2 separate regions of the Homo sapiens genome follow, and region 2 is linked to region 1. Evidence: fine-mapped expression QTL. A gene starts in region 1. The other region holds a variant in brackets. All regions are shown on one strand. Distances are from middle to middle.

Region 1 (11,255 bases):
GGTACCAAGTCATTTTATAGCAGAACTCTCCAGGCCTCCGTGCGTGTGTGTGTATGTCCTTAATATCTTGTCCTACACAAAATTCGATGACCACTGGATATATTTGGATATCTGTCACTGAGCCTCACCTGTCTTCTTTCCTACTGCAGACTAACTCAGGTCTTTTCCAGAGTCCTCCTGGGAGGCTGAGACTTCTGGGCCCCACTAGGTCTAATTATCTAAGAAGTAAAGGGGAATGGGGCAGGGAATGGAATGGCCTGGAATCTGAAGCCCTGTCAGTATGCAAATCACTTACTTGCATGCAAATCATTCCAAGGAAATGGAGCTGGGTATCCCTTGGTCAAACATTTTTGTCTCCTGTGAATGATGCAAATTACTTTTGGTACCTACAGCCCTCCCTGTTTTGTGGCTAGATTGAAAAATTTTTAGCCCTGCATTTGAATAGGCTGACCCATGCTAGACAGTGATGAAGAGGACAAGACACAATGATTCCACTCCTATGAAAAGACCCAAGAAAACATTAGCACAGATCCACCAGGGAACCTGTTCAGAAATGTTCATAGCAGCACTGTTTATAGTAGCTCCAAAATAAAACCAATCTGAACACCTATGGAAGGAGAATGGAAAAATTAATTGTGTATGTTCACCCAATGAACTATTATAGAGCCATGAAAATGAATGAGATACTGTTACATGCATCAACATGGATGAATCTTGTTAAGTCCAATGGCAATTCCTAGAAAATGATATATAGTATAGTACCTTTTAATAAAGTTCAAAAAGCAAGTAAAGCTAAATAAATTCATGTTACATGTATTTTTAAATCCAAGGAAATGATAAACCATAAAAATCAGGATAGTGGCCAGGCGCAGTGGCTCACGCCTGTAATCCCAGCACTTTGGGAGGCTGAGATGGGTGGATCACGAGGTCAGGAGTTCAAGACCAGCCTGGCCAAAATGGTGAAACTCCATCTCTACTAAAAACACAAAAAATTAGCCAGGCATGGTGGCAGGAGCCTGTAATTCCAGCTACTCGGGAGACTGAGGCAGAGAATTGCTTGAACCTGGGAGGTGGAGGTTGCAGTGAGCTGAGATGGTGCCACTGCACTCCAGCCTGGGTGACAGAGCAAGACTCCATCTAAAAAAAAAATCAGGATAGTGTTTTTGTGTGAAGGAGAGGCAAAAAGATGGGCTAGGAAAGGAGCACCCGGGAAGATGTAGGTGTTGGAAATGTTCTAGGTCTTGGGTTCAATAGTGGGTTCATGTGTGTTCATCATGTTATGAATAAATACATGAATTAATAAGTCCCATACTTGGGCTAATGTTGACAATGTGTCATGATCAAGGATTATGATTAATTCAATTCTGATCATTCAATACCTAAATGGAAGACAGAAATAGAGAGGGAGAGAGAGAAGCCAATGGAGCTGGCCTTTCTTCCTTTTTTCCTCCCTCCCTTCCTCCCTGCCTGCCTGTCTTTCTTTTCTTTTCCTTTACCTTTAATTATTCCACAAACATCTACTGTTTGTCGACTGTATACCATGCCCCAGGCTGAGAACTAGGAACACTGGGATGAATCAGACACAGTCCTGCCCTACAGAGTCACCATGTGATGCAAGAGTCTGACAATTCCCCAAATGTTTTCAAGGTGCTATGACAGATGTAAAGCAACAAGGTGTGGTAGGGCTTACAGAAGGGGCCCTTAATCCAGCCTGGGCTATTTGGGAAGACTGTGGAGCTTTCTGCTTTGAGAAATTAGCAAGAAGAAAATGTGGTTGGGGGTGTAACAGCTATAAAAATGAAAAAGACAGCCTTGCCCTTGAAGTGCTCATATCTTGGGGTGAGGGACAAGAAAGGAGGTCACAACAGTGGGACTTGGGGTTGTGAGAGAGGCAAGCACAGGCTTGAGATGCACATAGGAGGGCACCGTGCTGTGCCTGCAGTGTTGGGAAGGCTTCCTGGAGGAGATGACATGTATACAAGCAGAGAGACGAAGTATGAATTAGAGTTACCTGGAAAGTCTGTACCAGGAAGAAAGGTAAGCACCTACAATGGCCTGTGGCAGGGAGAAAGAGCATGGAGGAGCTCAGGGGGCCCCAGTGTGGCCTGGCCCAGAGCGCAAATGAGAGGAGGTGAAACTAGATGAGTAGGCAGGGAGCCAGATTCCATGAAAAAGCATGAAAATTATGCTGTGGACCATGGGGTACCTCTGAAGGGAGTGGCAAGGGTGATTTTTCCTTCATGAAGAGAGCCCAGCAGTAGAGGTGAGGGGGCCGCTATAACTGCTAGGGAAAGAGATGGTGATGCTTGGGCTGTAAAGAGGAACAGAATTTGAGAGCTGAGCACCTGATGGACAATGCTGCATGGCAGGCTGGGCTCAAACAGGGTTGCTCCTGAGGGGTGGGCAGAGGACATTCAAACCTCACACAACACAGTTCTGTCTTGCCACAGACCTCCTTGGAGCAAGCTGCAAGCTCCAAAATTTCTCAGAACTGAAAGTTTTTCCTCCAACTTCTGTAAAACCATGGTTAATACTTTTACAAGACAGAGAAGGAGTCCGAGATTTCAATAGCTAAAAACTGGGAAGTAGACCGAATACCATTCCTTGTGGGAGCAAAGGCAGGAGGAGTGAGGTTCAGAGCTTTGCTTTATCCAAGGGGTTCTGGACCCCTGACTGCAGCAGCTCCCTACTGGACCTTCTGCCCCAGGCATTACTTTGCCTTAGTCCAAGAATCCCACGAATGCTACAGATCTTGGTCTACTCCTGAGAAGTAGAAGGAAAAAGATTTATTGTGCACCGACTACACGACAAGCTACAACCCACAACTGTACTCTAGGGACATTCTTCTGTTCCTGTTTAGAAATGAGAAAGCTAGGACCCAAAGGCTTGGAATTGAGATTTAAGCCCAGAGCTGTCTGACTATGCCCATGCAATACTGTACATTCTTTAGAGCAATACTGTGGCTAGTTTTTCACGGTTGCATTTTTAGACTCACTCTTGGACAGTTAAGAACATCTTGCATTAGTTACCTACTGCTGAATAACAAATTACTCCAACATTTAGCTGATTAAAACAACAAACATTTATTATCTTACAGTTTCCATGCATCAGAAATCTAAGCACAGGTAGTTGGTTTCGGTGATTCACGATCTCTCATGAGGTTGCAGTCAAGGCATCACACAGGGCTGTATTGTCCTATGAAGGGCTCAGCTCGGCGGGGCAGAGATCTGCTCCCAAGTTCACTCATGTGGTTATCGGTAGGTCTCAGTCACTCACCATATGGGCCTCTCTCCACAGTGCCACTGCAGGATATAGCAGCTGGCTTCTCCAGAGAGGTGATCCCAAAAGAGAGCAAGAGTGTATGCTCAAAACAGAAGCCACAGTCTTCTTATAACCTAATATTGGAAGGAACATCCCATTACCTCTGCTGTATTCTGTTAGTGAGAAGCAAGTCAGTAAGTCTAGCCCACACTTTAAGGGAAAGGGTTTACACAAGGGAGTATATACCAGGAGTCAGGGATCACTGGGGGCCATTTAGAAGCTGCTGATCTCAATCTAAAGAATTTTAGTAGCCAGGCTATCCTGGCTTCTCCCCAAATGGCAAGTTGTTTCCCTTGTTATCCAGAGGCTGGAGGATTTGGGGGTCTACAGGGACACAAGGGGGCCCTGTTTTGGCCCACTCCTTTGTGCCTGGGGCATAATCTCATTGGGAAAGGCCAGTGTGGTGAACCTAACTGGAGCCCCCAAGGGAGGGGGGGAGTTGTTTTCTCAAATTGTGGCCACTGCTCCCTCCCTCCCTTATCCTTGAAGCTACTGTGATGCTTCCCAGCACCGAGTGGAAGCAACGGGCATCCTCCACACACACACCCAGCCTGTCAGCCAGATGGGTAGAGAAACCATCAGCATGAACGTCTGCTTTAAACTTTCCTTTGCTTCTGAGCTTCTTTCCACAAATTTTCTTTTCTTGCTCCCCAACCACATCCATAACCCCCACAGTAGCTCACAGTAGAGGTGCTCCAGGAGCTTGTCAATAGGAGGTAGGAAGGAAAGACACCAAGTGTGAATGTAGGTCAGCACTGCCACTTAGGGCAGTTCAAATCACATTCACTGTCCTCAGCATCTATCCTATGCTGGTGCAGGGCATCCAGAGATGTGTGAGGTACCTATACTTGCCCTCCAGGGGGGGCTCACAGTTTTAGGAGGGGCAGACATGCAAACAGACAGTGATGAAACGTTAGAATAAGTACAATAAATACGTGTCAATACACACTTTTGTCACCTCATCATGGTTATCTTGGTTCATAAAGCATCATCTTATGCTTAGACTATTACAGTAGCTGCCAACCTGGTTTCCTCCATCCATCCATCCAGTTGGCTGCTAAGAGGTCTTTCTGGAATGCAAATCCGACAAGGTCACTACCCTGGTTAAAGGCCTCCCAAAGTGATGGGGAAGGTCAAGCTCTTGATACAGTCTCCACCCAAGACCCTAGACACCGTCCATCCCTCCAGTTCCGTCATACCCCCTCTGCTCATAGCACAGGCTCTGTGCTGTGATAGGTAGCTCTCCAGGTGACCATGTTGTACCCCTGCCTCCAGGAGCTAATTCATGTAGACACATTTACTAGGAAACATTCCCAGTTGCCCTTTCCAGTCTGACAAATTCGCCCCAGAACCTCTCTCAAAACGTTTCCTTCATAGAGTTGGATTGTCTTTACTTGTTTTCCATGTCCTTGATGAAATGCGCACTCTGCATCTAGACTCTGTCTGCATCTAGACTCTGTCTGCATCTAGACTCTGCCTGGTACCTGGCACAGAGAGGGATTGGGTTAGCAAATGACTGCGTAATGGACCTAAAGTCAATTCTGGGAGCACAGACGAGGGCCACCAAACCAAGAACTTTCAATTTCCCCAAGGAAGCGCAGATACCAGAAGCACCCTCGAGGCTTCTGTTTTGGCCACGCCCTTTACCCCATCGCTCAGTTCAGGCTCCCAATGAGGCGGCCCACCATCAGCGCTGGTAGAGCAAAGAGACCGACTTCCTGCGCCTCGGGTGGGCGGGGAACGCTCCTTGAGCAGGTGCGGTATGAAATTGGACTTTAAGAGATGAGTTGGAGCCTGATCTCAAAAATAAAGTGTGGACGTGTGTGTCTGAGGAAGGGGGATAATAAACCACCCTTTTTTCCTCCTGGCTGCTATTTCCCACGTGCGTTGAGTAAAGGCACCAAAGCTGCCTAGTGACTGGGTGTCTCCTCCCCGTCAGGGGCACCCACCCTGGCGCTCCAGGAGCGCTTGAATGAATCCGGGAGGACCCGCGCGCAGGAATGAATGCGAGAGCTAGGGAGTGAGCGGGCGAGTGGGCGGGTGAGTGAATGGCGACCGCGCCGCCGCCTTGGCACAGGGGCGCGGGCGCGGGCTCCACTTCCCTCTCCCGCCAGCTGGTGGCCTCGAGAAGGTGGCGGCGCCGGCAGCGGCCCGAGCTGGGACGGCCGGGGCGCGGGATGGTGGGGGAAGGGGCGTTCCCGGCGACCGCGCCTTCCGCGGCTATTGGATTAGTGGCCTTCAGGGATGAGCTCAGCCAGATCGGCTTTCAGCTGCAGCCTCCGGGCCGGCCGGGAAGGCGGGGAGCGGGCGGCGGCGGCGGAGGAGGGGGAGGCGGCGGCGGCTGCAGCATCCAGAGCTGGCCGTGGCGGCCGGCGCGCCCCGCGCACAAAAGCACCCAGCCCCAGGGGAGGGCGATGAACACACCACATCCCGGGCCCGGGCCCCAGCTGCTGCTACCGCTGCGTGCGCTCAGGGCGCTGGGGAAGACGCCCGGCGCGCCGGGGGCCAGCGGCCGAGGCGCGGCCCGTGCGCCCTGAGCGCGGGACTCGTCGCCCTCCGGGTCAGGCGCCAAGCTTCCAAGCGGCTAGAGCGCGGGCCTTGGAGCGCCCCCAGGATCGCTTCAGTAAGGCGCTTCCCCACTCCAGGCCCGACCCCCGGCGCCTGAGCGCCAACTTCGCCAAGAACGCTCCTAACTCCAGGCCATCCTGCAGCGCAGAGGGGGCGCTGCTGCCGGGCATCAGCCGTGAGGACGCGCCCCTGGCCGTGCGGAGAGAGCCGGCATTTGCGGGTCACTCGGGCGCCCCTGAGTGGGCGGCGGCGGCAGCAGACCCCTCTCCAGGGAGTCCAGGACCTGCCAGCGCTGGGGATTCTTCCCGAACAGGCGCTTGCCCTCTCTTTTATGGTAAGTACTCTCCAGCTCCTGGTGAGGGGCGCGCGGGGGCCGGGAGCCGAGATCCGGCTGCACGGACTTTGTGCGGGCCAGCACTCGACACAGCTGGCGCTCCTGACGTCCCAGTCCCTGAGAATTCCTCTCTGCAGGTTGTGGCAGTTCGAGATGGTTGATTTGCGCGCAGCCCTGGGGCGTTTGGGGCCCGGCCTTTGGTATCATGGGTTCTAAGCCCTTTGCTTCTCTGCGTAGCGGACAACGCACAAAAAACTGCCATCCGATTCACCCGCTTTGGTTTGGATCCAGGATCCGTCACTCACTGGCTGAGTGACCTTGGACAGGGCGCCAAACCTGTTTCCTCATCCGTAGGATGGGAATGATAATTGTGCACATTTTATAGGGGTATTGGAAAGATCTATGGGATGGTGTTCGTAGGTAGACATGTGCTGGGCACACAGGAAACACTCAATCATATGTTAGCTAGTATTATTATTAGCTTTGCGAGCCCAAGCTTGTTATCCAACTTTCCGAAGCTGCAGCAGTTCCGTCGTCCGTGTAATGGGGACAATAATTCCTGGGGGTCTGTTCGTCCGGGGTATTCGGAGAGGTGGAAGTAAAGCACGGGTCACGCAATAGGCACCGGTGGCTGTTGTTACCGTTTATTCCTGACTCTGGGGCAGTGAGGCTGGTCGCCTGGCCCGAGAGCGACTCAGGGACCAGTCCTGGCCTTGCTTGAATACAAACTTGTCTATGCTCGGGAAGGGAGGGGGTTGGGAGCTCAGGAAACCCTAGGCGCAGGGCTCTGGGAAGGAGGGAGGGGGTCAGAGACTTGAGCGCGGCAAATGTGTCCGCCCTGGTCGCTCTGTACGCGCCAGGGGCTCCAAGCCAGAAGGGGACGCCGAGCCCCCGACCTCTGACTGGCGGGAGAACCGGGGGAGTGGCTGCTCCCGCCGGCCCATGGCCAAGCGCAGACGGCTGCCGGCAGGAAGGAGAGGAGGGCACTTTTCTGTACCGCTGTCGCGAGAAGGTGGAGAGTTCTCAGTTCTGGAGTCAGGCTTGGGTTCGAATCTGTCTCCACCACCAGCTCGCGGTGTGACCTTGGGCAAGTTCTCTAACCTCCCCCCGCTTGGTTTCCTCTTCTGCGCCCCACTCTCCTCCTTGGGGGGTTGGGGGATGAAGATAGGAGTTCCTTTCTCTCAGACTCTGAGCCCTCTATCCTCCCACCCCCTTTCTGGCCCCCTGCCCCCCACCCGCGCAATTTGATGAGCTTAAGTCTGGAAGACGTAAAATGTGTAAAAGCATGATATAAACATCCTTTACCCAAGGGCATATTCCTCTGAGACACATACCCTCTAATTTATTCCATTTTTAAAAATGGTAATGAAAAGAATTTAAGCCACCTTTGGCAAATCACAAACAAAATTCAACTTACTGGACCTTCTACCCAAATATCTCTCCAGTTTGTATTTCTCGTTTATTTTAAAGATATATTTAATGATATAAAAATAAAATCTGCAAGGAAAAGAAATCACCAGAAACAGTCAAAAGATATATGACAAACTGTCACATATGACATATACCACTCCTATCACAACAGGCTCATCTCTTTAAATATGTAAGAGATTCCTGAGGTCAACAAACAAAAGATCAAATGGGCAAAGACACGATTCATACATGCGAAATAAAATAGAAATGATACCAAAACATATGACAAGATACCTTACCTCAATACGAAAAATGCAAGTTAAAATTACAAGATTTTTTTTTAATGTATCAAATTAGCAAGTAGTCATAACCATTTATCAGAAGCATCTTTTAAAAATGTAGATCACATTTCTCCCTAGCTCAGGACCTCCTTAAGGCTGCCACAGAGTAAAATCTAGATGATCCCAGGGGTCCTCAGGTCTGGTACTGCCCTTCTCCACCTCTTCCTCACCATTTTCCTCTCCCCCACTACCCACCCTCCTAGCCTTCTTCCTTTTACTCCAACACTCCAAAGGCTCATTCACTTGCTGTTCCCCTGCCTAGAATACTTTTCCTCCTAGTTTTTCATACAACTGAAACTTCCTCATCATTTACGTAGAACTGTCCTTGGAAGGGCTTCATTTCTATCCCAGAAAGTGGCCAAGCCACAGTGGCCAGTGCAGAATTCCTTGCCCTTTTGGGGAAAGACCTAGTACAACTCACCATACAGGAGTTACTTAATTTCCCCTGAGCTGCCCGACCTGTTGTCACACATCCATGCTCTAGAAAGGTTTTTTCTCTGTTGATACAGGAGTGAAGGGTCTTGGGCATGAAAATCAGGGGAGTGGCAGGCCGTAGATGGAGGTCACCAGAAGTCTCTGCCTATATATGTACTATATAAGTACATAGTATGTACTCTTGATTTATGTGAACATGACCATCTGTGGTAAGAAAAGATCAACTATAAAAAATTTTTAAACCAGCAACACGTTTTTAATAAAACATGGTTCCTACATAAGCCAACTAATTTATTTGCTGCTGATCAGTTCAAGAAATAGGGATTTGTTTTGAGGCTATAGGAAAAACAGTTGTGGGTGGTGTGCCCTTTGGGAAAGAGGTGGTATACCTCAAACCAGTTATCATGAACTTTGTGTGGAACTTTAGAAGAACTTTCCTAAGCAGTGTTGATTGCATGTGATTTTTGCTTCACACATTGAGTTCAGAACTTACTCCATTTAAAATGTATACGTGTGGTGGTTCATGCCCGTAATCCCAGCACTTTGGGAGGCCGAGGCGGGGGGATCGCAAGGTCAGGAGATCGAGACTATCCTGGCTAACACAGTGAAACCCCGTCTCTACTAAAAATACAAAAAATTAGCCCGGCGTGGCGGCTTGCGCCTGTAGTCCCAGCTGCTGGGGAGGCTGAGGCAGGAGAATGGCATGAACCTGGGACGCAGAGCTTGCAGTGAGCCGAGATGGCACCACTGCACTCCAGCCTGGGCAACAGAGCGAGACTCCGTCTCAAAAAAAAAAAAAAAATGCAAACCATGCAGGAGGTATAGAGTGGCTAGTCCTTCTTCAGTCTGACAAGCACGTCTTAATGCAGCCAGAGGTAACAGGTACAAGGCTGTGTACGAGTATTGGAGATAAAGGCTGGTTGGGCACTGGCTCCATTAAGAAATGCAGATGTGGTGCAAGAGATAGCAGCAGGAATCAACAGCTAAGATGAAGACAAAGTGGGTTGGAGGGCAGAGGGTGCAGTGGGACGTAGGCAAGAGGACATAATGGGGCGGAGGGAAGAGGATGTAGTGGGCTGAGGGGCTGCCACGGAGGGGTGCCCAGTTCTGCTTCTGCTAGAAGGGGCAGGGGAGTGAGAGAATGTCAGCCAGGTCAGAGAAGATGGGAAGAGTCCCAGGATGTGCTGACGAGGAGAGTCTGGCATGACTGGTCTGAGGTGGGCCGTGATGACAGACAGTGTGGAAGAAATAAGAGCAGCCTGGAGGGCCCCTGGGTGCCAAGCAAAGAGGTGCAGCTTCTCTCTGGAGAAGCTGCCTGGAGGGTTGAATGAAGAGATTGGTGGGTGTCTTGGTCCAACTTACCTGTTGGCAGCATGGAGAGTGGGTTGGCGGGCAAACAGTGGAGTCAGGGAAGCCTGCTAAGAGACCAGTGGAGTAATCCAGGCAAGTTCTGAACTAGGGGAAAGCTGACGGGGTTGAGTGGTGGGGACCAAGAGACGGGATCCATGGCAGGAACAGTGACATGCAGAGGAACCTGGCATGTGAGAGAGGGAAGAGGCCAGGCTCAGCCTAGGACCTGCAGATTCCGAGGTGCACATGGACCACAGATGTCCCGCAGGGCTGAGAGTGTGGGTGTGCCCATGGTAGGAGGCTTATGATGGAAAGAGGTCAGCTGGCCTTACAAGGTCATTTGAAACAACACCCAGGCAGGGCTGACCAGGGGCTTCTAGTAGGTAGGTCTTGTGCTGAGGAGAGAAGGCAGCACTGGAGACCCGGCTTGAGAGTGTCTGCACGGGGCTGGAGATGCAGGTCATAAGAGAAGATGCATGGAGAGAGAGAGTGAAAAGCGGAAACTGAAGTTGAAGCAATGGACTTGGGGGTGCCCCATTGATGGGGTAGGCAGGAAGACATTGGAGCCAGGAGGAGGCAGGAAAGCTGCTGTGGTAAGCTCTACACTTCAATGTGCTGGTATGTGTGGTGGGAGACGCTGGAGCAGTGCCAAAGTCATCCATCTGACCTTTAATGTTGTGAAATGTCATGTATGGTGAACTGGAGCTCTGCTTTCTCCAGAAGTGAGTGGGCCTTGGCCCGGTTTACTGGCCACAGAGACATTCTACCTGTTATCTACCTTCAGGAGACATCTACCTGTTATCTGCATTCTATGAAATGTGCAAGTTGTACAGATTCCTGGGGCTGGAGCAGCTCCCTCCCCGATCCTGCTCCCTTTCTCCTCTCTTCCTCTCATCCTCTCTCCTTTCCTCCTTAGTATCTCAAAAATGCCCCCAGAGATACTGTAGGCTTAACAGAGGGATCTTCAGAAATCCCAGCAGGTCCCTATTATGACCTGGCTCAAGCCAGAGGCATGAATAGTTCTGCTTTTCTTTTAGGCATTCTGTTTCCAGACAACCAGTTATACCAAGTGGAGAAGGTTCATCTTGGGAGGTAAATGAGGGATTGGACGCAAACCTTATCATGTTTTCATCATCGTTTTCCCCAGAGGGCTTCATTAAATGGTACCCTTCCCATCTTCTCCCTTCATGCTTTGACCCAGCCCAGACATGCTGGGCCTCAGGGAATCCAGCTGCCCTGCAAACAACCTCCACATGTGCCTGGGGCAGGCCTCTGGGCTCAGGGGCAGCTGTGGTGACCGGGCTGGCCCGGACTGCACGTGGCCTTGCTGTCTCAGTGGTATGTCTCTTTCAAATGACCTTGCAGAGCTTGCTGCCCTGGTCACAGCCTAGCAAACCTCCTTCATCCCATTTGCTGCTCTCCTTGCTGGCTGACAGCCCAGCTTGCACCTTGGGGGCCCCTGGCTCAGTCACGCGTGGGAGGATTCCCATGGAAAC
Region 2 (11,255 bases), 96 kb after region 1:
TGACTGTATCCAAGAGGTTTTTGTAAGTTGTGTCACTATTATCGTTCCATTCAAAGAAATTTTACATTTCCATCTTGATTTCATTGTTGACCCAAAGATCATTCAAGAGCAGATTATTTAATTTCCATGTATTTGTATAGTTTTGATGGTTCCTTTTGGAGTTAATTTCCAATTTTATTCCACTGTGGTCTGAGAGGATACTTGATATAAGTTTGATTTTCTTAAATTTATTGAGACTTGTTTTGTGGCCTATCATGTTGTCTATCTTGGAGAATGTCCCATGGGCTGAAGAAAAGAATGTATATTCTGCAGTTGTTGGGTAGAATGTTCTGTAAATATTTGTTAAGTCCATTTGTTCTAGGGTATAGTTGAACTCCATTGTTTCTTTGTTGACTCTGTCTTGGTGAACTGTCTAGTGCTGTCAGTGGAGCATTGAAGTCCCCCACTATTGTGTAGTTGTCTATCTCATTTCTTATGTCTAGTCATAATTGTTTTATAAATTTGGGAGCTCCTGTGTTAGGTACATATATATTTAGGATTGTGATATTTTCCTCTTGGAGTGATCCTTTCATTATGATATAATGTCCCTCTTTGTCTTTTTTTTTTTTTTTTTTTTTTTTTTTTTTTGAGACAGAGTCTCGCTCTGTCACCCAGCCTGGAGTGCAGTGGCATGATCTCAGCTCATTGCAAGTTCCACCTCCCAGGTTCACACCATTCTCCTGCCTCAGCCTCCCGAGTAGCTGGGACTACAGGCACCCGCCACCACGCCCAGCTAATTTTTTGTGTTTTTAGTAGAAATGGGGTTTCACCGTGTTAGCCAGGATGGTCTCCATCTCCTGACTTTGTGATCTGCCCACCTTGGCCACCCAAAGTGCTGGGATTACAGGTCTGAGCCACCACGCTTGGCCCCCTCTTTGTCTTTTTAAACTGTTGTTGCTTTAAAACCTGTTTTGTCTGTTATAAGAATCGCTACTCTTGCTTGCTTCTGGTTTCCATTTGCATGGAATATCTCTTTCCCCACTTTACCTTAAGTTTATGTGAGTTCTTGTGTGCTAGGTGAGTCTCTTGAAGACAGCAGATACTTGGTTGGTGGATTTTTATTCACCTTGATGTGGTACTCTCCTGCTTCCCCTAGGGACGGGGCTACCTGAGAGCTGGACTGCAAAGATTGGTATTGCTCTTCTGGGTCTAACCATGCAGTGGGGCTACCAGGCTCTTGGCTGGTGCTGGGAGATGTTTGCAAAGAGTCCTATGATGGGATCTGTCTTCAGGTCTCCCAGCTGTGGATACCAGCACCTGCTCTGGTGGAGGTGGCAGGGGAGTGAAGTAGACTCTGTGAGAGTCTTTGGTTATAGATGTTTAGTGTGCTGGCTTTCTCTAATGCTGGTTATGCTAGCAGTGAGATTGTAATATGGACAGACTTGGGACCCACTTGCTAGCCAGGATTTGGCATGCAGTGGAATTAACTCCTGTTTCTCCTTCCTTGGAGCAAGGTTGTTCTGTCATGAGTTGCTGTAATGTCCTGAGTTGGTTGGCCTCCAGCCAGGAGGTGGTGCTTTCAAGAGAGCACCAGAGTTTTTTTCCTGTTTCACAGAATTTGCAGTGGCCTGCTCCTTCTTTTCATTATGTTATTTTAATTACATCTGAGAGTTACAGAATGAATAAAAATTTAGAAGTAGACAAACATATGAGTCCTCATTTTTACATTAATATATAAATGTAAGTAGACAATAAAAAGTAGAAGAAAAGCCTATTTTTAGAAAAGACCAAATTAATAGCTCCTAACAGTGTCAGGGACATTTATTTGTTCATCAGTTGAGTCTGCATAGACAATCTTTGAATCACCACAGCTGTTTGAGCAAACCTGGATTGGAGGACAAGCTATGCAGTTAACTCTGAATTTTGGCTAAATATTTGACAACTTCTAAGCAGATCCTATCAGACGTCTTCATCACTCCAGACTTCAGTCCCAGGCATCACAGGAAAGAGGATATCATCATTTTAGTCTTCCTTGTTGGTATGTGGCAGAGTCATATTATGGTATTAATTTCTACTTTCCTGATGATTCATGAAGTTGAGCACTTTTACATATGTTTATTGGCCATTTGGATATTCACCTTTATGAACAATGATTCTTTTTCGGTTTTATCTTTAGTCAAAAAATAGTTCTAAGAATAGCTCCCATACTGGAAAATTCTGTGCTTCCTTTCCTATCCAGGTGATTATTTCCAAGCTTTGACATTTGGTAGTTCTAAGAAAAGCCTCAAAGCCAGGAGAGGTGAGAAAGAAGAGCCAAGAGAATGGGCGCAGCCAACGTTGGGCACTCTCCGAGCTCTTAAAGTTCCACAGTGGGGGCAGGAACTCAAGGACTTTCTCTGTGCACTTTGGAATTGTCAGTTTACTCTCCCCTCAGAAGTTCGGAGAGATGATTTATATTTCACATTTAGAGCTAGCAACGTACTCTGAACTCCTTTTCCTTCTTCCTTTGGAATTTAGAATCTAGATTGATTTCAGTGACTGCAGAGAGATGAAGATAAAAGACATTCTGTCCTCTTCAGCCCCTAATTGGGCAGGCAACACACAGGGAGTTGGGTTTGCTGACAAGGCTAAGCATTTTGGGCGTTGAATACCTATTATGTGCCTAGGGCATTAAAGTGATAAGAAAATCTCTTAAGGTCTGCCAATGATTTTGAAATTTTAACAGCTCAGTTTTCCTGATGCCAGATGGGGGACAGGGAGTGGGAGAACTGGGTACAAGGGTGTTGCTGGAGGAGAGATGGGGACACCCTGAGGGAGGGTTGTCAAATGTTGGCCTAGGCACAGTGATTGGGTGACTGGGAGGTGAGCGATCAGCCTTCTGCACCTGGAAAATAGGGCATGGCTGGGCTTCCCCTGTCCAGCCTCATTTTGTATGAGGATCGATATACTGTCTCCATATTTGACTATTCTGAAGATTTTGTACAAGTGGAATTATACAATAAAAATAATAATTATTTTAAAAAGAGAATACAAAAAATTAAAAAAAAAAAAAGATAAAAAAGAGGATACAGAGGTGAGTGTTTGGAGTCACTAGTGCTCCCTGCAGATAGCCTTGGGATCTGGCCTCAAGTGAAGGAGAGCTGGATGTACTCTTGTGCACAGCTTCCAAAGCATGCTCCCCAAGCCCCACTTTAATTTTAATGGCTCCCCTTATTAACTCTGCAGCTCAGGTAAATAAAAATTCCTATAAAACATATTCTCGACTCTTGACTACATTCCCATGTAAAAAGTACTTCACTGCAGGTTGTGATAAAAAAATGTTTGAAAGCTGCAGGCCTCGGGTGGATCTGTAGAGGGCCTTTCTCTGTGGTACTATTCCTATCACAACTCTTGTGTTAGTATTTACCACTCAACAGTTTTGTTGTATCTTAGTACATTATAGGATGTTTATGAAATATCATTTATTCTATTACCAAAAAAGTATTAAGATGCAGGTTCAGGCTTCCAGCATACTCCTGGAGGACTGGGGAAACCAGGCCTGTACAAACCATACCAGATGCCATGTGACCACCATCATCATCTTCCTTCCAGCTGATGCTAACTGATCAGCACTGTTCCTCTCCCCACAAACCTCCAGGCTGTCCTGTTTTATTCCTCCTTTGCCTTTGCCTGTTCTCTCTGCCTAGGATACCCTCCCCACCCTTATGTGCCTTTAACCCTCCTATTCACTCTTCAAAACCCCATTATGTGTCCTCTCTGTGAAGCTTTCAAACAGCTCTTCTATATAAGAAATTCCCAGTTTCTGTACCTGTATATTTAAGAATTATTGCATATATTACACTCTATTAAAATGATTCACCTATTTAAAATCCCAGATCATGAGCCTCCACCACCCCCCTACCTGCCCCCACCCTCTTCCAGAGCTGCCTCTGGTGCTAGCTTAGTTATCCCTGTATCCCCAGGGCTAATCAAAGGGCCTGGACCAGAATAAGAGCTTAATAAGGGGGTCTGCAATAAACCTAGTTAAAGTTGGTTTAACTGGTCCTATGTCCAGTGGTTCCATTATTTATGGATTTTAACTTACAAATTTTTCCAGAACTAGGTGCTGGAAGAAAATGTAACCCGCTGCTGACCATCAAGGAAAGCTATAGGGGAAGTTTCAGGGTTCACAGGCATTTCAGACAGCCTCTCAGAATCTAACCTGTTTGTAGAGGAAACCCCTCTGCAGATCCACCCAAGGCCACCAGCTTTTAAACATTTTCCATCATGACCTGAAGTGAGAAGTCCTTTTCACATTAAGACACACCAGGCCGGGCGCGGTGGCTCACGCCTGTAATCCCAGCACTTTGGGAGGCCGAGAAGGGCGATCACGAGGTCAGGAGATCGAGACCATCCTGGCTAACACAGTGAAAGCCCGTCTCTACTAAAAATACAAAAAATTAGCCGGGCTGGTGGCGGGTGCCTGTAGTCCCAGCTACTAGGGAGGCTGAGGCAGGAGAATGGCGTGAACCCAGGAGGCGGAGCTTGCAGTGAGCCCAGATTGTGCCACTGCACTCCAGCCTGGGCGACAGAGCAAGACTCCATCTAAAAAAAAAAAAAAAAGACACGCTGAACACCTACATCAGAGACCAGAGACAAGGCTTTCATGAAACAATATTTATCCTTGCTATGGGTATTGCTCCCATTTTCTCTTTTTTTAAAAAAAATTATGGCTGGTCACCACCCATTGAATTGATTTTGTGACTCTTTAGTCTCACTGGTTGCATTCCACAGTCTAATGAACACTCCTCTAGGCCTTCAGCTTATGTAACCAGAGAAATCTTCTCCAAGGAGAAGCCATTGACCCTGAAGGCCAGCTCAGAGGAGCAGGCAGGAGGCGGTATGCAGTGGGGGCTGGGATGAGAAGGTGCCAGGATGGCACAGGGCACACTCTAACTGCTTCCCTCTCATTGCAGCCGAGCCCCTGCCACTGATGGACCTGTGCCGGAGATCCATCCGCTCGGCCCTGGGCCGCCAGCGCCTGCAGGACATCAGCTCCCTGCCCCTGCCTCAGTCTCTCAAAAACTATCTGCAGTACCAGTGAGCCAAGCCTGATGGGCAGCACAGACACAGACACACACCGCAGGGCCCGACCCTCCTGTCATTCACAGTCCCATGGCACATAGGGGAAAGGATCTACCCTTCTCCTGGCTCCCCAGGACACTCAGTTCTTTCAAAGACCAGGATGTGGTACCAACTTTGGAAACGAAAGGTCTCTTGCCAACAGTATCTACTGCCCTCGAGGCAGCCCTCCCAAGTCAGACACCTCCTTCGGAGCCACAGAGAGCCTGGAGTCTGCACCTCCTGGAAATCCTGCCACCAACCAGGACACAGCAGCCACCGTATTGATCAGAGAGCCTGTTTCCTTATTCAAGAGAATGAATAAAACATTTAGGCAGGAGACTTTCTATTGTGTGCCCCGTTGCAGACAGGGCCAGGGAGAAATTAGCCAGTGCAGGGGGAAAATTGCCTCTGAATAATGAATGATGAAAGCCTGACGCCGTGCCCCTCCTGGCCCATACGCCTTGCCAGGGCGGCAGGATTGTCACACCGTTTTAGGACTCTGTGCCACTTTGAGAGACTGTTCCCAGGAGGCCCAACCGCAGACCTGGCAAGTGGACAGTGCAGTGTGGAGACACCTTCCGGCTTACCTCTTTGAA[C/A]GTTGTTTACCTACCCCTTTCCACGTGCTCCCCTTCCCAGCCACTGACTCACAGTTCTCTGGATGCCCAGACACCTCTCTTCAGGGAAGATGAGTCTGACTGGTTTGCCCCAGGGAAGAGCATATCCTTACCATTATTTTAAGTAGCATTTGCATTTTAAAAGAGGAATGCGGAGAGGACAGTACTTAGTCCAAAGGTGCTAACGGGGGAACTGGGGGCATTGTGACACCCAAGTCTGATGTGTCCTGGGTTGGGGGGCCTTCCTGGAGTGTCAGGGTCTCTGGGCAACGTCCATTCAGGGTGCGGCATGGCTGTCACAAAGCTTTATTTGAGCAAATTATTTTTTCACTTTAGGAGACTTCTACAAGTTTGTTTCCTGTTTCAAATGTGTGTGTGATGTGCTGTTTATTTATCAGCTTGAGGTCCATGGGGGCAGCCTTGTGACTGGAAGGGTGGATATGGGAGACACATTCTCTACCTGCTCCGAGCCTGGTCCTCTCGCAGGAATGCTGCTGCTGCCTCCGCCGCCACTGCTGCTGCCACCTCTTATATGTTTCAGACACTCTCTGCCCAGACTCATTTTTAACTGGAAATCATCACAGCAGTGGGATATCAGAGCCCCAGACAGCACTGCCTCTTCCTCCCCACCCCACTGCCCCCACCTTAATGTGAATTTGACTGATGAATGAAGAGCGTTTCTAATAAAGTTTGTCATTCAGTCCTTCAGCTGCGTATTAAATGTTGTTTGGGGAGGGACCCAGAGAGCTTCTTCCATCAACCTGCCTGGTCCGTCAGACTGATAGAAGCCAGGCACGTGAATCCCTCTTTAGACATTTCTTGTCTCTTCTGACTTGTGGTCCTTGCTTGAGCCCAAACTCCAGCTATTTTGCAAAGGCCTGCCCTGGACAAGAGAATGTGCCTGTGTCCTGGGTACATGCAAAGCTGACCTTATGGTGGAGAAACAACTCAGCCTCCTGTTGCCAGAGCCAAGGGGTAGCCCTGCAAAGGGGCTTAGGGTCAGGCAGGGCAAACCCTATGGAACACCAGTTTCCAAGTGGACTGGAGGTGGGGCTGGATGTGACTGTAGTGAATGCATGTTGTCACCAAGGAGCAGTGCAAATTGTTGAAGCATGAGTGTAAAGAAAGGCCAGGCTCAGAGCTGATAGCAGTTCAGGAGTTAGAGTCAGGATAGGGTCTGGGTAAGGACTGGAATAGCATTCATTCAGCAGTACCAGCCAACAGCATGCGCTGTGCCAATTTCCAGGGACCCAGCGCCCAGGCTGATATATCTCATCTCCAGAGATGTGTAGTACAGCATAATAAAGTGAGAAGGAGCTCATGAAGAGGGGTGGATGAGAATAGAATATGAAGGGAAGGCTTCCTGGAGGAAGAGGCACTCTCCAGACTTGTTATTTTAAGGGCAGACAAGCTTCCTGAGGACCACCAAGAGACCAAACTTGCAGCACCTGCCCCCAGGGTAATGTTTCCAGCTCTGACCTCGGGGCTGGGCTCCGCATCAGGCAGCTTTCAGTCATTTTGTTTGCCAAAGGCAGCTTCCTGTGGCCATGACATGGAGGCTTTGAGGCTTTGTGTGTAGGAAGCCTGGGTTTGAGTCCCAGCTTCATCGTTTATGTGCTATGACCTTGGGGAAGTCACTTCCTTCTGTGCACACTGTGCTGGCTGAGCCAGGTAGCCAGTAACTGGGAACTCTTCCTCTCCCAGCTCATGGAGTCCCCATCTCAGCACCAGCTTTCCAGCTTGGATGCATCTGTCTTATCTCGGCTTCCAAGCCTCACTTATGTGGTTTCCCTCACCCTAACAATGTCCTCCCCATCTTTACCCTCTCAAGGATCTGGCTTAGCGTGGCTTCCTTGAGGAAGCCCTCTTTAACCACTCCCCCCATCTCTGCTTCTTCTGAGAATTCAGCTCTTCATGTCCTGACCTGAGGATGCCACTCCTGGGGCCCAGGACCCTCTCCTGAGCACAGGGACTTGAGCTCCTTTGCCCTGTGGTCTCACCTGCCCAGGGAGCTGTGGACCTTTGACGGGCAGGGCCTCTGCCTGCTCCTTCCCACACAGCCCAGACCAGACACATGGGCTCAGCAAAGATGGAGTGGTGGGTGAAGGTGCCCCTGCAGCTGGGATGACCATGGGAAACTGCAAGGAGGAGCGGGGAAGGGAGGATCCTCCCAGAGCCAAGAACCTGGCCTTGAGGCTCACGGATCTCTTGCCCTTTCATTCCCTCACCTTTTCCCAGGTATTTATAAGGCATTTTTCATGCACTCAGCACTATTATGAGAACATGAATAAGGAAATCTGGCCCTGCCATATCAGAGCTCACATTCTAAGGGAGAGACAGGACACACAAGCAAAGAAACAGATGATGTCAGAGGGCGGAGATGAGCAGCGGGTAGGCTAGAGCCAGGGAGCAAAAGGGACCCAGTAATTGAGGGTGATGGGGGGAGGCCCTCTGGGAAGATGCTGAGTACTGAAGAAATGAGAGGGAGCCAAATACCTGAAAGGGCGTGGATCTCCAGGTCATGGGGGGACTTCTGGCTCTCCCAACCTTCTCAAAGTGGGAACTCCCGAGCCCCAATGAGTTGAGCTGAGGAAAGGAAGCCCCTGTGCTGCCACTCCTGCCCAAGCCGCAGCTCAGCATCCCTGTGTGTGTGAGCCCCACACACCTCCAGGCTTGCTTGTGCAATTGTGCTCCCTGCAGGCATGCAAGTGCACCCACACACAGACACACACACGACCAAGGGCCTCTCCCCAGCAGACATCCTGGGAGCTCATGACCACCCCCCAGCGCCAGAGTCCATTATAACCCGGGCCCAGCCCCCTCCCATGCTTGGCACATTCTCTAAAGTTTGGCCTCTCCACGACCCATTTCCAGCAGGGGGACTTGCCAAAGCAGTCTCGCTAGTCACTTTGTAATTGTCTACGAATAGAGCATATGGTGGCACCGTCCCCCACAGATCTGATGATCCCCATGAGCACCCTGTTTCACTCTACCCCATTTGACATTCCCATATTCTGAGTAAAGCCACCCTTTTTCCCTTGCTTTCCTCCTCTGTCATCTGCACTAGCAGCTGGCTCCTGTGTGGGTTATCTTTCACTAGGAAACAAACATTTCATCTCCTTACAGTGTTACAGAAGAAGTGGGAGCAGGTAGCAAGTAACCCCATTATATGGCAGTTGATTTGTGCCAGGGCAGCTGTCTCTGTCCCCAGGGCCTTGGTCCCAGCCACAGCCTCTGAACAGGCGGCGCATATTTGCCAAGTCAGAAGAACAGGGAACCACACAGCATTACTCTTCAGGTCCCTAACAAGGAGTGGAAATGCCCAGTTTTAGTCCAAAACACAAGAAAATTGGTCCACTCTTGCCTATAGTTCTGGGTGCTTGGATCTCATTCCAGCCTACAGATTTGTTTTGTTATCATACTTGTGTGTGTGTGTGTGTGTGTGTGTGTGTGTGTGTGTGTGTGTGTGTGTGCGCGCGCGTGTGTTTTAATAAAATTGAGCCTAACAAAGAAAAATCAAGTAATTTAATAGAAAAATCCAGATTTCAGACTTCTCTTGAAAAATGGGGAGAGGTGTTAAAGCCAGGCCCACATTCCTTCATGGTGAGGTTGGCCAAAGCTGAGTAAAGGAAAGGCCTCTGCTCTGTGGTCCAGCCCTACGTCCAACCCTCCCACAACATAGCACTGGGACCTCTCACTGCCGCCACCCTCAAGGGCGTTCACTCCCTGCGTCTGGGCTAAGGCTTCTGAGTTTGCTTCTCTGGACTATTGGTATAAGACACATAAGTGGGTAGTAAGTACCCACACGTAGGCGTGCACACACATACACACACACGCGTGCACACACACACACCCACGACAGAGGGAGGGCTCAGGAGGGGAGAGTCTGCTAGCTCTGCACTTGACTTTGAAGTCTCTCCAGCCTCAGCCACCAATATTCAAGGAGCTCACAGATGCCCAGGATCTTTACTCAGACACCAGAGAAACCCAGGTGTTCCTGGCTAGATGGTGAACTCCTAGAGGACAAGGACAAGAATTCTCAGGGCCTATTTGTAATGAGCTGGGTGACATGATTAGACAGCCTGGCTGCACATTAGAATCCCTTGAGGAACTTTGTAAAAAGGCCCAGTGTACAGGCCCTTCTTCAGTCCAATTAAATCAGGACCTCTGTGGGTAGGGCCGGGCCATGGCAGTTTTTAAAGCTCCCTAGATGGTTCTAATGCTCAACTAGGGCTGAGAACCACTGGATAAGGCGCTTAATTAAGTCAGCTCCTTGAAGAGGTGGTTGACGTTTGTGAGAATGCACATCCTAGACCAGAAAACGCTGGCCCAGGCTCCCTGCATTCCCACAGCCGACGGGATACTGAGTGGTGGGAGTCCCCAGTGTGGCCAGGTCCAAAGGCAGGGAGTCCCTCCCAGCCCTTCTTCCCCCTTTCCAGCGATGCCGAGCTGGTTGCTCCTGAGCATGGGGGAGAAAGGACCAGCCACACCTGCCCTGATGCTGCACAATTCTTGACAAATTGACTGCAGCCCCACTCGCTCCCTGACCTGTGAGGCCCAAGCTGTGGGGCAGTCTTCCCAGACAGCATTGTCCTGAGCAATCAGAATAACCGTAGAATTAGAAGTGAAGAGCAGACTGAGAATGGCTTGGTCTTCAATGTACTATTTTGAATAGAAAAATTTGAGCTTATGAGAATTTGAGATAGTGAGTGGTTTGGTTCCTGGCATTTCCAAACCTTGCTTTCTTAAGGCCAGGTAACACATTTGGCCAATAATAAATAATAAATTATAATTATAAATTATATGCTTATCATTATAATTATAATTTATATTTATATTTGTATTTATAAATTATATAGTTATAATTATAAAATTATGCCCTTCACACACACACTTCTAGGTTTTAGAGTAAAATGAGCCATGAACAAGCCAAGCCTGGCTTGATGGCAGTGTTAGTGTCCCCAGCTGCTCTGCCTCTTCAATAAGCAGGGCTCTTTCCCTGGGAGGAGGCCTGGTACTGGGTGAGTGCAGCCCAGTTAGTCCATGGAGGAGGATCAGGGTAGGTCATTTCCCTTCTTCCAACCAGCTCCAGGGGCCTCAGTAACACTGTTCCTATGCCTGGGGATTTCCATTCAAGGGAGATAATATGTTGATGATTTGCTGCACAGTGATGGCATTTAAAAAAAAAAAGAGTTGCCTGTTACTTGCCTGATTCAACAAATGGCTCTGTACCAAGCTCTGTGCAAGCTCAAGAACACTCCTGCTGCCCGAGAGCGCCCCTACACCTCAGGGAGACCAACAGGCAAACAGGTGTCAACTGCCTGCTGACAGGATGGGCAGCAGGCCAGTGGAGAGAAGGCACAACAGAAACAAGTGCTGGAGTGTAGAGAGCATAGAGTGTGGTGGGGAGTGTTGAGGAATCCCAGACAACAGAGGAGAAGCTACATGGGGTGGCTCGGGGGACACACACTGATGAAGGGTGGGGCCTTGCAAGTCACACTCAGGAATAAAGGTTTGGGATTTGTCTTAGTAAGTTCGTGTTGCTATGACAAAGTACCA

What was found.
Region 2: its variant is fine-mapped to the expression of SPSB4 in testis (GTEx, PIP 0.98).

What each region holds. Positions count from the first base shown.
Region 1 is chr3:141,045,770-141,057,024 of GRCh38, forward strand. SPSB4 (splA/ryanodine receptor domain and SOCS box containing 4) reads left to right here and starts at 5,578. Exons shown (of 3, transcript NM_080862.3): 1 at 5,578-6,223.
Region 2 is chr3:141,142,208-141,153,462 of GRCh38, forward strand. SPSB4 (splA/ryanodine receptor domain and SOCS box containing 4) reads left to right here. Exons shown (of 3, transcript NM_080862.3): 3 at 4,935-6,404. The coding sequence ends at 5,062. Among named protein-coding and RNA genes, the nearest start is that of PXYLP1, 84 kb to the right of the region's middle. The variant C/A (reference allele first, on the strand shown) is at 5,679.